Linked DNA regions of Homo sapiens: region 2 is linked to region 1. The links come from fine-mapping of genetic effects on gene expression. A gene starts in region 1. The other region holds a variant in brackets. All regions are shown on one strand. Distances are between the middles of the regions.

Region 1 (8,000 bases):
TCTAAATGATACAAAATCTCTTACAATCCAAAAATTGGATACAACTGACCGAATTTTGTTTCTTAAAAATAAAAAAGTTACGAGCGTCTTTTAATTTATTGTGATAGGTATTTCAGATATAATAAAAATTCCCCCAACGCATCCTGGCGGCCATCAATGTCCCAGCTCTAGCCTTGACTTCCCTCACTCTACTCTGACTTCAGAGTGAGCCACTAATGAGTTCATGAACTCTTCCTACGCACCCCGAAGTGGACTGGGAGTCACCAAGAGAAGGTGCAGGGTCTGTTTCACAGCTGACGAGGCTGGCGTGGGGAATAAGGCCTCAGAAAAGATGACACCACACCCCCCCAGACACTAGCTCTTCAGAAACGCCCCGGTTTACCTCTGAAGCTGGCGGAGGAAGTGTTCCAGGAGTTGCTGAATAGGTGTGCTCTCATTTTCGGCTGACAATTTAAGGAAAAAAAAATTGAATACAAGACTTTGGTATCCCTTCATTAGAGAGCTCCAAGTTCACAGTATCTGTCTGTCTGGTGTCTCACAGCATTTTAAGTTCCACCGAGAACTGGGGATATAAAGATACATCCGACTCAGCCTTGGCTCCCACCAAGCTCAGCCGGGTAGAAAGGGCACCCCCACAGCAGGAGTCATAAAAATCTCTTGTAATAACCGGTAGCCCTTACATCAACAATATGTGGTGATCACTTAGCAATGTTTTCAGCTCATACCACTACTCTAGACAAGAAATGGACGACGGAACAAACGCTCTGGACATAAAGGTTGATCCTGAATTCACCGATTATTATTTCACTTGAGGTCCCTTAAAATTCAACAAAAAGTAAATAAATGGCCGGCGTGGTGGTGCGTGCCTGTAGTCCCAGCAACTTGGGAGGCTGAGGTGGGAGGATCGCTTGAGCCCAGGGTTATCTGAGCCCAGGAGTGAATCACGACACTGCACTCCAGCCTAGGCGACACAGCAAGACCATGTTTCAAAAATAAATTAAAAAAAGAAAGTGCCTGAAGAGCCAAATGACCACAGGAGCTCAGAAGGCCACCAGCTTTCCAGAACTTTCCTTCAGTGGAGCCAGCAGGCCTCAGACAGTTTCTGACGGCCTGAATGATCGCAGCACTAGCCTCCCCACTCCCTGATGTCCCATGTCCCAAAGCCCAGCCGTCTGTTTCCCTATAATCCAGGAACCACTGGATGCTGAGAGTTGCTGGGAAGAGACACCCCTTGTCTTAGGTACAAATGCCTCATCACTGTGAGTTGTGCACAGGAAGGCTGGGGACAAAGAGAACTCAGAGGGCAAGTCCTTGTCAACTGGAAATTCCAGCCAAATGCCATCCTTCGCAGATGGTGCCCACGACAGAGATTCTACTAAAGGCCTCCAGCTTCCTTTGTCTCAGCCTATGGTCACTTTCAGCAACTTCAGACCCACCATTTGGGCCTCGAGGTCCCTTCTTCCCAAGGGGAATTACCTGCGTTTTCACTGACATGCATCTCTCTTACCAGTCTGACCCAGATGGGGCTACTGTTCCAATACTGTCTTAAGTGCAAACAAAACCAAACTTCAAGACCCAGGGCTGGCAAACTTTTTACATAAAGGCCAGACAAAAAACAGTCTAGGCTTTGCGGGTCACATACGATTGGTCTCTGTGGAGATGCCTTTTTGTTTCTTTTTATGAACGCTTAAAAAACATATAAGCCATCCTTAGCTAACAAGTTAAAAAACAAAACTGAAGGGCACCAGTGGTAACTGGCCACGCCTTGCTCTAGACATTCAGAGACACCGGAGGAAACCTCAGGCCAGAGGACACCTGGGATGAGGCCCTGGAAATACCAGCTCTCCTCCCTCCCATGCTTCTCCCCAAAGCAACAGGACACGGTGCCGACCCCTCATTTACAACGATGAGCTGTGAACACCAGGAGAGTCTCTAAAAGTGCACCCTTGCCTGGCTGTGTCCGGCACGCTCGGACTGGCCGATCTGGGGGCGGCTCCACCTCCACCTTCTTCCCAGGATCAAAGTCGTCAGCCTCTCCCTCCGTGTCACAGTGCTCCCTCTCTCGCTTCCGCTTCTTCTCTTCCTGGGCGGCAGAGTCAAGGGAGTGAGAAAGGCAGGAGTAGGCGGGATCCGGACAGGTCTGCCCAATCCCCTCGCAGTTCTCAGGGGAGGGACAGAACTAAGGGAAACCCCCTCCGAGATCCTCCTCATGCCAGGCTCCCTCCTCACAGAGACCCTGGCAGGGTCTGCTGAGGAACAGCACACCCAGGATCCTGGAACTGAGTCTGCGGGCCTCAGCGGTTCGCGTTTTGCTACCAACGGAACACCCCCTCCCCTCCTCCAGCCACGCAGGCGCACTCTGCCTGGGTCCTGGGACCAGGCTCCCCACGGGCTCCTCGTGGGCAGCGTCCGGGCCACCGCCGCTGCTCCTTTACCTTTCGCTTCCTTCTTTCCTCATCGTCCAGATGCTTCTCCTTCTCGGACTTCTTCTTCTTCTTCTTTTTCTTTTCTTTGTGCCTCTCTCGCTCATGGTCTGACCTGTCATCATAGTAACTGGAGTCGTGGCCGGATCCTGAGAGTTCAGTCACTTCACTTCCTCCGACCTTCAGGACTAGCTTTAGAGGCTTCTCCAGGGGCTTGTCGGCATAATCTGCACAGACACAGACCGAGTTCTACCCGCGTGCTCAGGTGCAAACGCCACGCAGCCAGGTGAGACGTGAAGGTGCTAAGAGGGAAAGGCCTCCCTAAGGAGTACAGCGGGGCTGCCAACCAGCAGGGAAAGACGGAAGGGAAGACCACAGTGGCGGCATGTCACTGCCTCCTTGTTCTCCCTTCCCCTCCGCAGGGAGCTTCAGGTCCCTTTCGAGCCACGGTGTCCTCACCAGAGGCCCTGTGGGATGTTGTTCACATTACTCGTTCAAGAAGATGGATTAAGAGGGACCTGGAACCCCGGAGCCCGATCTCCCTCCTAGAAACCCCCAGCACTTCGGTTCACCCTCGCCTGACTTCCTGCAGGCGCCCGTGCTGCCCGCTGACACCCATGGAGCTGCTGCGGGAGCAAGGGAGAGGGAGGGAAAGGCGGGAGAAAGGGCAGCCCAGCTTCTCCCTGAGCTCCACACAAAAGCCAGCACAGATGCTTCCCTAGTCTCCAGGACCGGGGTGAGTGGGCTTGCAGCCTCGAACCCAGAACCCTCTACCAGGAACGTAAGCGCCTACCCAGGACCCCTCACGTGTGCCCGGTTCCCTGCCCGAAATCCCAGGACCCCCTCCCGCGTGCCCAGAACCCCTCCCTCGTGGCCAGGACCTCGCCCGGTGCCCAGGACCCCCGTCCGCGTGCCCGGAACTCCTCCCCCGTGCCCGGGACCCCGCCCGCCGCGCGTCACAAAGCGCCGCCGCCTCACCCTCGTAGGACGAGCGCCACTCGGCCTTGTGCTTCTTGTGCTTCTTGCCCATGGCGGCGCCGGCGGCGGGCCCGAGGCGGGGGCTGGGAACAGCTGGCACCCGGTCGGACCTTGGCCGCCACCGCCCCCTGGCCCTGGCTGGCCGCCCGCGCTCGCTGCGCCGAGGTTGCCGAGCTCGCTGGGCCGCGCCGGAAACGGGGCGAGGCGGGGCCGCGGCAGGAAGTGGCCCTGCCGGGCCCGAGCGCTTCCGGGTCAGGAGGTGGTGCGCCTCGCGCGGCAGATTCGAAGCTAGGGCGGGGCCCGCGGGCTGAGGCAGCGGCTGTGGCGGCGACGCTGGGCGTGAGGTGGCGGCGGCCGCGCCCTGGTTGGGTCCCCACTGCTCTCGGGGGCGCCATGGACGAGGCCGTGGGCGACCTGAAGCAGGCGCTTCCCTGTGTGGCCGAGTCGCCAACGGTCCACGTGGAGGTGCATCAGCGCGGCAGCAGGTGAGCCGGACCTGTCCGACACATCCTCTGGGCACCCACCCGCCCCGACCCCAGCGCGTGCACCGAGCCCCGACCCCAGCGCACTGATTCTGATGCGACCGAACCCCAGGGTACTGATCCGGCCCGACTGGACCCGGGCGCACAGGCCGCCGGGCCCCGACCGGATCCTAGCGCAATGACGCGACCCCACCGCAGGGCACTGACCCGGCCGACCCGAGCCCTGCGCGCAGGACCCCAGCTCACAGATTGAGCCCCGACCCGACCTCAGCTCACGGACCTGGCCCTGACCCTGCCCCTGCCCCGGCTGTCCTCCAGTGCATTGATGTGGCCCTGAGTCCCACGTTGGAGAATAGGATGGCTGCGCATTACAGAGAGCTCTAGTCTCAGCCGAAAGCTGGGTGGTTATTCTTTGAGCCACTGCTTCTCAGACCCTTTAATTGTTCCCGTTCCTCACGGACTCGATGTTAAATTTTTAGGGTTCAAAGCACATCCCACTCATTTGTGACCAAGTCAGTTCATGGTATGGTGGGGCCTGTGGGCTGTGCTGCTCCCTGGAGTGGGGGGAACTCAGCGGCGGGGCCAGACCTTCACAGACCCTCCTTATGTCCACGGAGGGTGGATTGAGGTCAGGTGAGACCACCAGCCTCAGAGGGGATGCAGAGGAAGAGACCTTTCCTTTAACAGAATAGCTGTTGACTGGGTATTTTCTAGGTGCTGGAGTTCAGACACGTCAGCATAATTGCACCAGGGCCCAGAGACACCTGCACAAAGCCCCATCACAGCCTGGCGACACCTGTGTAAACACCTTAGCGCTCAGAGACACCTGTACACAGTGCCACCGCAGCCTAGAGACACCCCATGTACAACCACACCTGGGCCCAGAGACGCTAGGCATAATCACACCAGAGCACAGCTGCACCTAGAGGACAGACACCTACGTACAACTGCACCAGAGTTCATAGACACCTGCACACAACCGCACTATGCATGGTGGTCGCTGCTTGTAGGGTGCTGGGACGATTGCAAAGGGGCCACATGTCACCTGCCTGGCTCTGAGGAGCCTGTCCAGGAGGGCTCAGAGGGAGGCAGACATTGAATAGGACTTAGAGGGTGACTGCAGTTGATCAGGCCAGTAAGCTGGGACAGTGCATAGCAGGGCACAGAGGTGTGATCCGGGACCAGGTCACTGTTGTAGAAAGGGGAGGTGTTAGGAGGACTGCAGCAAGGGGGACCAAGGGAAGCCCTGGATACCAAGCTGAAAGCATTAGATTTTCTCAGCACGAATCACGGCTATTGGAGACTTGTTACAATGCAGACCCCAGGCCTGACCCCACAGCTGTGGAACTTCATTAGTAATAGTGAAAGCCAACATTATTGCGTGCTTACTATGTGCCAGGTATCGTCCTAAACACTTTGAGTGTATTAATGACTTCACAGTAGCCCAGCATAGCGAGAACTCTTACTGTTGTCCCCTTTTTCTAACTGGGAGCTGAGGCACAGCTTCTTCAGGGCACAGCTGGTAGAGGACCCACAGGCAAGGGGTGGCTCTAGATTTGGTCCCAGGCAGGCCAACTCCAACTTACCCTGTTAACTACTGGGCTTTCTTATGTATTGTCTGAGTTTTTCAAAACACTTCATTTTAACATTTTGTTTTTGAACTAAGATCATTTATGTGTGTTTTGGCTTCTTTTTTTAGCACTGCAAAGAAAGAAGACATAAACCTGAGTGTTAGAAAGCTACTCAACAGACATAATATTGTGTTTGGTGATTACACATGGACTGAGTTTGATGAACCTTTTTTGACCAGAAATGTGCAGTCTGTGTCTATTATTGACACAGAATTAAAGGTTAAAGACTCACAGGTAAGTTACTAATTTGCTGGGCCAAGGAACAGTTAGCTGAATACAAAAGGTTGTATCATGAATGTCTTGCCGTTTTCATAGCCTGTTGTCAGAAACAGGTTCACTTCTCTGTTGGTTTGGGTGGCTAGACAAGTTCTTTTCACTAGCTGTCAGGAGCCAGGTGCTGGGAGTAGGAAGTAGCCCTGATGTCGGGGTGCTCTCAGTATAGCAGTAACAGATTGGAAACCAGGAATGAGAATGCAGTGCTGTACAATAGTGGGCTGCGCTGGTAAGGCCTGTGTGCCATGTCTCATTCTTTCAATCAGCAAATGTTTATAAAGTGCTCAGTGTGTGCTAGGACCATAGGAGGTGTGGGGCCACAGAGATGAGAAGATGGGCTTGCCTTATAGAATTCCTTTATCTCATCCCATGCATGGCCACCTCACCCACCATCTGAGTTGATGCGTATGGGTTAGAGGAGCTTTGTGTGAGGGCGTGGAGGCATTGGGGCGATTCTGGCACCAGTATAAAAACAACCTGAAACATTCCTAAGGAAGACTTATCACTTACAGCAGTACAATTCCTGTCCTGTAAGAACCAGCTGTGAAGGACAGGCTTGGTACTAAGTTCTGCTCGTGAGGTGGACCTCCCCATTCATACGTTAGGACTCATGTTTGTGCATGCTCAGAGCTTTGTGCACACTGAGATCTGATAATGCCGTGGTTTTGGCCAGTCTGAGGGAAGGAAGAGCTTCCCACACTGTTGTGGAGGGATGGACACCCTAACTGGAGGGCACGGGCTGCCCAGGGAAAGTTCTAATGTTCTCTGACTGCAGATTCACTTGTAGGAATTTATCGTAGCTGATAATCATGCAATTTTGTAGATCTTTCTGAACAGATGTTTGTTAGATGCTGTTAATAATAGCCAACAATTTGAAATATTTTAACTGTCCACCAGAGGTCAGTTAATAAATGTAGGAATTCCATATATCTACACTATGTACAATATAGCCATTAAGAAGAATGAAATAGATTTCTATCTACCAATGTAAACATTTCTCTGAGTTAATAACAAATGTAAAAAGACACAGTTAGGAAACCGACTGGGCAAGGTGGCTCATGCCTGTAGTCCCAGCACTGTGGGAGAAGGATGGAAGGATCACTTGAGGCCAGGAATTGGAGAATGGCCCGGGGATCATAGCAAGACCCCGTCTCTAAAAAGAGTTTTAAAAAATTAGCCAGTGCGGTGGCGCACACTTGTAGTGTCAGCTACTCAGAAGGCTGGAGGTGGGAGGATCACTTGAGTCCAGGAATTTAATGTTGCTGTGAGCTGTGATCGTGCTGCTGCACTCTAGCCTGGGCGACAAAGCAAGATCCCGTTGCAAAAAATAAGTTAATTAAAAAAAAACAAAAAACCTTATATGATAAAACTCAGTTTTTGGTCCCATCTGTGTGAGTGTATTTATATAATAACGTCCCGGAGGCTGGATTTAGGGCACTTTTTCATTCTGTAAGTAAATGTAGGGCCCAAAGAGCAAGGGATGGGTATTAGCTTTCAAAAGAGCCAATCCTCAATCTGAAATAAAATAATAGCCTTCTCATCTAATCTGAGAACTAGCTTTGATTATACTGTACATTCAGTTTTTATTTGTAGACCTTAACATCTAATTTGTATGGTTGCAGTTAAGTGAGAGTTGGAAATGTGTGTCGATATTGGCTTTTCCCTCATTTTAGCCCATCGATTTGAGTGCATGCACTGTTGCACTTCACATTTTCCAGCTGAATGAAGATGGCCCCAGCAGTGAAAATCTGGAGGAAGAGACAGAAAACATAATTGCAGCAAATCACTGGGTTCTACCTGCAGGTATGGGGTGTGATGGGAGTTGAAGGGGAGGCTGAGGTCAGAGGATTGTATACTCCATGCCATGTCAGTTCACAGGGGGGGTTCTGTTTGTCCATTTGTTTTGTAGGATTTTAGGATGTTTTCTCTCTTATGAAATGGAAAGTATATCACAAAAGAGGAAAGTAGAGATTTCCAGTGTGGGACCATACTGTTCCTTTGGGTGGGTACCTTAGAGTTCCTGGCTAACGGAGAGTGCCCATGTGCTCTTCTCACATGCCTGCTTGGTCTGTCCTGCTGAGTGGCTCCTTGTCTGCTTGATGCTTCTCCGTGGGCATTGCTGATGGGCTCTAGCAGGCCAAGCCCACGGCTTCATTCAGTCAGTGTGTGGGGAAACAGGTGGATTTGGATGGGCTCTAGCAGGCCAAGCCCAG
Region 2 (8,000 bases), 23 kb before region 1:
TGCAAGAGGCCGGCAGACCCTGGTACCCGCCCAGTTCACTGTGGAGCAGGTTCCAGGCCACAGCCATCGGGGACCCAGCACGTCCAGCTGAGAGGTGGAAAGGATGAGCTCCCAGCCCACTCCTGAACTGTGCACCAGACATGCCAAGAACCTGCACACAGGTCTGTGGTCACCTGAGCCCCACCAGCCAGGGGACCAGCTTCACCCTCCCCGGGGTGACTCTGGGCTTACCCTGACAATGCCTGGGGAAGGTCCCACAGAGTCTAAGCCACTTCTCAAACTCAGAACAAAGGCCGCCAGGCCTCAAAGGTGTGTAAGCAGACCTATCACCCAACGGCATCAACTACAAACTCCACCTGGTATCCAGTAAATGATTCCAACACACACGAAGGAGCAGGAAAACACAGCCCCAAACTAGGAGAGACTCAAAGCTGATATCAGGGAATCAGTAGACAAAGTGTAGTAACAGTGACTACAGACATGCCCTGTAGAACTGGGTAATGAGCAGAGGCTAGAACAGCTGGGAGAACTTAAAGACAGGAAGATGAGGGAAAGTTTGGAACTACCTAGAGACTTCCTGCATGGCTATGATTCAAATGCTGATAGTGATATGGACAGTGAAATCCAGGCTGAGGTGGTCTCAGATGGAGACGAGGACCCCATTGGGAATGGGGGCAAAGGTCACTCTTGCTATTCTTTAGGAGAGACTGACAGCACTGTGACCCTGCTCTAGAAATCTGTGGAACTTTGAACTTGAGAGAGATGATTTAGGGCACCTGGTGGAAGAAATTTCTAAGCACTAAAGCATTCAAGAGGTGACTTGGCTGCTTCTAAAAGCCTATGCTCACTTGCACAAACAGAAAAATGACCTGAAACTGGAACTTATATTTAAAAGGGAAGCAGAGAGTAAAAGTTTGGAAAATTTGTACCCCTGCCATGTGGTAGAAAAGAAAAACCCATTTTCTGGGGAGGAATTCAAGAAGGCTGCAGACATTTGCGTAAGTAAAGAGGAGCCAAATGTTAATACCTCAGGGACATTTCAAAGACCTTTGCCCAGACACTGCCATCACAGGCCTGGGGGTCTAGGAGGGAAAAGGGCCCCACTACTCTGTGAAGCACTGGGACATGTGCCATGGTGCTCTGTGTCCCAGCCATGGCTAAAAGGGGCCAAGGTACAGGGCTAAAAGGGTCGATGCTTCAGAGGGTGCAAGCCCCAAGCCCTGGAAGCTTCCACATGGTGTTGGGTATGTGGGTAGGCAGAAGGCAAGAGCTGAGGTTTGGCAGCCTCCACCTAGATTTCAGAGGATGTATGGAAAAGCCAGGGTGTCCAGGCAGAAGTCTGCTGCAGGGGCAGGCCCTTCATGGAGAACCTCTGCTAGGGCAGTGCAGAGGGGAAATGTGAGGTTGGAGCCCTCACCCCACACAGAGTACCCACTGGGGCACTGCCTAGTGGAGCTGTGAGAAAAGGGCCACCGTCCTCCAGACCTCAGAATGGTAGATCCGACAGCTTGCACCATGCCATCTGGAAAAGCTGCAGGCACTCAACACCAGCCAGGGAAAGCAGCCACAGAGGCTGTACCCTGCAGAGCCACAAGGGCGGGGCTGCCCAAGGCCGTGGGAGCCCATCCCTTGCATCAGTGTAGCCTGGATGTGAGACAAGGAATCAAAGAAGATTCTTTCGGGGCCTCAAGATGTAATGACTGCCCTGCTGGGTTTCAGATTTGTAGCCTGCTGCCCCTTTGTTTTGGCTGATTTCTCCCTCTTGGGATAGGTCTATTTACCCAATGTCTGTACCCGATTTGTATCTTGGAATTAACTAACTTGTTTTGGATTTTACAGGCTCACAGGCAGAAGTAACTTGCCTTGTCTCAGATAAGACTTTGGACTGTGGACTTCTGAGTTAATGCTGGAATGAGTTAAGACTTTAGGGGACTGTTAGGAAGGCATGATTGTGTTTTGAAATGTGAAAAGGACAAAAGATTCGAGAGGAGTCAGGGGCAGAATGATACAGTTTGGCTCTGTATTCCTGCCCAAATCTCATGTTGAATTGTAATTCCCAATGTTAGGGGAGGGTCCTGGTGGAAGGTGATTGGATCATGGGGATGGATTTCCCCCTTGCTGTTCTCTGTTCTCATGATAGTGAGTGACTTCTCATGAGATCTGGTTGTTTCAAAGCACTTCCCCCTTTGCGTTCTCTCCTGCTCCGCCATGTGAAGACATGCATGTTTCTCCTTCATCTTCCGCCATGATTGGAAGTTTCCTGATGCCTCCCAGCCATGCCTCCCAAACAGCCTGAGGAACTGTGAGTCAATTAAACCTCTTTCCTTCACCAATGACCAGTCTCAGGTGGTTCTTTATAACAGTGTGAGGACAGACTAACACACCACAGCACATCAGCACCAAAGCCCATCAGCACCAAGCTGCTGAGAAGTAGTAATAAGGACAAAATCTTAGAAGTGCTGAGAAAAACAGCTGCTGTGCAGAAAAGTGCTGTCACAGCGGCCTGGGGCCAGGGTCCCCTGGAAGGCAAGGCCAGCCACGGCTGGCATCTGGGGTCCCCCCCAGTGCTAGGGATTGTTCACAGCTCCAACAACAGGAGCAGAGTGGTTTATGCTAAAGTTCACCTTCCCTCCGGGGTCTGGACTTTGGTACCTGCCTGGCAAGGGGGTGCCCTGTGACCCCGAGCACCAAGCCTCTGACGGGCTTCCCTGGTGGGCATTTCACGTGTGTTGTCACAGCTCACTCCTGGGAATTAAGCGTGTCCCATGTGCCTCTGCTGGGAGTGGATCTGGGCCTCACGCTGGGTTTCCTTGGATGTCACTCTTGTCCCTCTGCTGCTGTTGGCACCCTTCCCCTATAATAAATCACGGCCATAAGTGCCTGAACAGAGCCAGCAGAGACAGGTGGAACGTCACCACGCAAAGCAGTGGGACCCATGGATCCAGGCACCACAAATGCTGCTGGAGGTCAGAACAGCTCGGGGGCGCTGCACCGGCAGCCTCCCAGGTGAGGGCACAGTCTCCAGGATGGCCCCACCGGCTGATGCCAACTGAAAGCCCCAGGCTGTGGTCTGTGCTTCCGACTAACCAGCTATCAAATGGGGTTCCCAGAAGACCAGACTTGAGCTCTATGAATTTCCTAGAGTGACTCACAGAAGTCAGGGAAACATCTGTAAATGAAAAATAAAATTCTAAGCCCCATGGACTGAACGGATTCCCACTCTTGGCCAAGGGCACTCCAAAGTCAACCTGGAAAATGAGGTCAGGCCATGATGTGAAGCGGGACTGGACTTGCCTCATTATCCCCTCTTTTGGAATTCAGGCACAGCTGACCAGCATTAACTTTAAAACAGAAATCTGAAGGTTGACAAAGCAGACTCCGTGGTAATAAGACACCAAATTCCGATCCGACTTTAGTACAGCATCACGTGATAGATGGCAGGCCCTGAAAGAAACTGAGTATTTTATCTCAAAATATATCCCTTTGACATATTTTGAAATAGCCCTGCAAAGCTGTATCTTGTGGGAAAAATCTACATTCTGTAGAGAATCTCCTGCCCCTTCCAAGTCTCTTCCTGACCCAACAGAGATTTAACTAACAATCTGGTACCTTTGAGGGCCTCATGAGTGATGTTTGCCATCTACTCTACTCTTTTTGAAGCCTGCTACCTGAAGGCTGAATTCATCTATGTGACAAGAACCTTGGCTTCTACAACTGCTTATGTTAACCATGCACATTTCTTTCTGACTTCAGCTCTTCAGAGCTTAACCCTTTCAACCAAATGCCAATCAGGAAATCTCTGAATCCACCAACGACCCGACATTCCTCGCTTCAAGTTGTCCCGCCTTTCCAACACGAACCACTGTTACAACTGACATGTACTGACTGATGTCCTCTGTCTCCCTAAAACATATCAAAACAAGCTGCAGACCAGTCCTCCTCGGCAAATGTTCTTGGGACCTCCTGGGACTGTGTCACAGCCACGGTCTTCGTATTTCACTCAGAAGAAACCTCTCTAAATACCCTGCAGAGTTTGACTCTTCTGTCCACACACTAGGCTGACATTTACCCATTTATTCTGCGGGGTGTCACCCAGGGTACGGATGGGCCCCAGGTGGGAGCGATGCAGAGGGGACCCGTGGGAAGGGGCTGCCTTCTTCCCAGAGCCTCCAGGCGTCCAGCAATGAGGCTCCCTAGGGAACCCCACCTTTTGGGATTTCATGGAGGCGGTAGGCAACACTGATGAAATCCACAGCCACTGGGGATCGGCCAGACCCCATCCTGAGGTTACCCAGGGGCTGCAACCACTTCTCATTAGCTTAAAAAAGACACAACACTCAGGAGATTCCAAGGATTTTAGGAGCTATGGTCCAAAAACCTGGGACAAAGACCAAATACCGTAACAAAAGATTTTCCTGGCATCCCTGTCTAGTCAGGAAGGGAGAGGAGGTGGAGGCCGTGTGTTTTCTTCCTCTATCACACCTTCACCAGGTGCTGTGGGAAAGTGCCTGTTACAACTCACCCAGAGAGCTGAGCATGGAGATATCCACAGA[A/G]ACGTCGGGATAGGACTTCATCGACATGAACTCCAGAACAGAGCTGCTGCTGTCTCCTAGGGTGTCCCCAACCTGTGGAGACAGACACACATCAAGAGCAATTCAAACATCAAACGAAAAACGAAATGTTACTTCACACTCGCTATTGAAATCACTCTAATTATTTGCTAAACGTGAACCCACCCCTCAGTAAGTGACAAGACCAAGCCCTGTTCACTGAGGCTGCTGTTCAAGGGACTGTCAGGTTGGAGCTCATGAATGGATATGCAAATCCATGTCAAAGAAAAACCTACTGAGACCAACAACGCAAACTAACAATCCTTTGTTAACTTTTTGGGGCTAAAGAAATTGGGGAGGGACATTATGCAACAGGAAGACACACAGAATTTTAGGGTCCAGGACTATTTCTCAGGCACTTCACAGAGCACACAACGTTCCCTTTCCTTTCCCAGCAAGGCGTGTCCTCAGGGCTAGACTACAGCCACCCTAACACATACTCTCTCATCAGCTCCCTGCAGCTCGGCCTCTGCCCTCAAACAGATGTTAAGGGGTCTCTCCAGGTTCCCAGGGACCCTGGACCAAAGCCCAAGCCCATGCCTGCTGACTGTCAGAGACACACACCTGCCAATCGGCAGGTGCAGCAGTCTGGGCTCACAGCACTGCCCTGCCAGCACTGGCCCCAGAGCCCACTGTGCTTGGGACAACACCTGCTACTCACCAAGCAGGTCCTGAGAAGGCCCATCCTGCCCAACCCTTGCAAGGGTGTCCCACAAGGACAGCACCCAGCGGGGCCAACTGCTCTGAAACTACCCATTTCTGGATTTGGAAGAATGTACTGCGGCTTCACACCACTCACCTCAAGTCATGAAAAGAGGAGGAGAAACACTATTGATCTTACTGATCAGAAACGGACTCCATTTCTAAACGCCGTCATACACACAGACCTCCCCACCTCAAAGGCTGGATACAACTTTCCCTGTGAGAATAATATTTGGCTTGCCCTTCCATGTTCAAAAACTTACCTTGGCTTCATCTGGAGGCTTCATGGGAACATTTCTTCTCTGAAAAGTAAATGAGGACAGAAACTAGTTTTTCCAGAGTGATTTCATAGAAACGGACAATTCGCTGACATTACACACACGTAAAAATGGCTTGTGCGCTTCTGCGAATTCTGCTCCCCAGTCACACCATCTTAATGGATTAAGGCTGGGGGTCCTCCAAACCTTCTTCATCACCAGTCACTGACCCAACCACGCCCAGCCCCCTCCTCAGCGCCAGGATTGTGTGCCGGGGACAGCGCTCCACAGGGCGAGATGGAGCGGACAGAGAGAGGACGCCGATGCTGTTTCGGCAGCCTTGGGTGGCTTAAAACAAAAGAAAAAAGATGTGCCTAGATCCTATGGGAAGCTTAGGATAAGAAGGGTCTCGTGGGTTCCACCTGGAATATGACCAGTTGCCTGAGACCAGCTCGAGTCCTGCAGGGGCAGGTGTGTGCAGGAGCAAAGGAGGCAGACACCTCCTGGCAGTGCCTGTGGCAGGTGGGCCTGCCGTGGGCGCAGGAGCGAAGGAGGCAGACACCTCCTGGCGGTGCCTGCAGCAGGTGGGCCGGGCCGTGCATTGTCTCCTTCCACAACTGTCGGCCTCCGTGGCACACCCGTCCTGTGCTCCGGTGGAGCGATGCTGTAGTATATGCACTCTATCATGTGTGATCTTTGTTCGAAATAATGTTTCTCAGATTCAATGACATCGATTTTCACAAGCTTTTAATTAGAAAATGAATACTGCTGTTTTGTTCGCATCTGTTTCCCCAAAAGCCTTCAGTCACTTTAGTCCTGAGCATCATTTACTGCGGGGGTGCACTCGGGGTCACTCAACTCCATATCCAAGTTCACTTTCCCGAAAGGAATCTAACTGGAACCCAGAGAGGAAACCACAGAGCCTTCCCATTTCCGGGCTGTGAGGGGGTCACTTTCCCTACCCCACAGCAATGCCTGATTCTAACGCTGTGTTGGGGGGGCCAGCTTCCTGCCTGGAAGGAGCCTGCAGGCCACGACACGGGAGGGTGACCAGAGCTCAGAGTCAGAACCACGAGCTGGTGGGGCAGGCTCTGCAGAGGGGGCTGCTCCTCAGAGCTGCAGAAATCTGCTTGGGGACTCCCGCCTGGCTGCAACCCTCTCTTCAGGGGCCTGCGAGCCCTCCAAGCATGGAAATCAAGGAAAATCTTGAGTTCCTTCAAGGGAAATTCCAGTTACTTAGATAACTCTGAGAAGTAAATCAGCGACTTGATAAGCAAGAAGGTAACAGTATCCTAAAACAACAGTCAAGGAAGGTGGAGACAGATGTTTGTTCCCTGTAGAAAGTAAAGACAACCTCCCAGCACTGTTCCCTGTAGAAAGAAAAGACAACATCCTACCACTCTGGGAGGCTGAGATGGATGCATCATTTGAGGTCAGGAGTTAAAGACCAGCCTGGCCAACATGGCGAAACTCCGCCTCTACTAAAAATACAAAAATTAGCCAGGTGTGGTGGCGCATGCCTGTAATCCCAGCTACTCGGGAGGCTGAGGCAGGAGAATCGCTAGAATCAGGGAGGCAGAGGTTGCAGTGAGCCACAATCACGCCACTGCACTCCAGCCTGGGTGACAGAGTGAGACTCTATGTCTCAAAAAGAAAAAAAAAGAAAGAAAGTAAAGATAACATCTTAATGTATATCCCTGAGTTGTCTTTCAGAAACCTGGACCCTCCACCTAGGACCTCCCCAACAAACTAATCTACTGGCATGAAGGGCTCAGATAAGGAGAAACTGAAGACTGAGCTCTGACCCCGTTCTTTGTTCTGAATTTCTTCCTGACGGGCCTGGAGGAAGCCACACCCACAAGCCTAAGCTAACATTCTTTTCTCTTCACCCCAAATTTTTAAACAAAGCTTCTCCTCCTTAACCAGCTGCAAATCAGAAAACCTTTGAATCCACCTATAACCTATAAGGCCCTGCTTGCAGATACCGCCCTTCTAGGCCAAGCCGACATGTAACCTCTGTGTCCTTATGCACGACTCTGCCTTTCAGTTCTGCTTTCCTGAGATCTACCCCCGCTTTACAAGCCTTGCCTGTAGCCAGTGGGGGAGGCCAGGATTTATACATGAGCCTCCTGGCCCACCTTGCTTGGCGCCCTGCAAATACACACGTCCTTTCTATGACAAAACCTCGGCATGGGTGTCTGGGTTTACTGCACCAGGCATGTGGACCCCAGTTCATCTGTAACAAGCACAGATGAAACCGTCAGGTCAAGGGACTGACCCCTCCTTGGGAGCCATGAGCCAAACGTTCTCAGAGCCTGGGAAGGACAGAGACTCATCCGAACTCCACCCACAGCAGAGACCACGCTGAAAAGACAGGGCTCCCCGAAGGGCCACTCCTTAGCATTAAGGCTACACGAACCCTAGAATAAGG

What was found.
Region 2: its variant is fine-mapped to the expression of BRD9 in whole blood (TOPMed, PIP above 0.99).

The regions. Positions count from the first base shown.
Region 1 is chr5:889,205-897,204 of GRCh38, forward strand. It overlaps BRD9 (bromodomain containing 9), which reads right to left and starts at 3,597. Exons shown (of 16, transcript NM_023924.5): 1 at 3,402-3,597; 2 at 2,436-2,650; 3 at 1,951-2,083; 4 at 383-443. The coding sequence starts at 3,453. It overlaps TRIP13 (thyroid hormone receptor interactor 13), which reads left to right and starts at 3,680. Exons shown (of 13, transcript NM_004237.4): 1 at 3,680-3,886; 2 at 5,583-5,748; 3 at 7,461-7,590. The coding sequence starts at 3,795. RefSeq lists silencers at 2,938-3,156, 3,347-3,966 and an enhancer at 2,966-3,598.
Region 2 is chr5:865,951-873,950 of GRCh38, forward strand. It overlaps BRD9 (bromodomain containing 9), which reads right to left. Exons shown (of 16, transcript NM_023924.5): 13 at 5,576-5,614; 14 at 4,523-4,625. Among named protein-coding and RNA genes, the nearest start is that of ZDHHC11, 19 kb to the left of the region's middle. The variant A/G (reference allele first, on the strand shown) is at 4,554.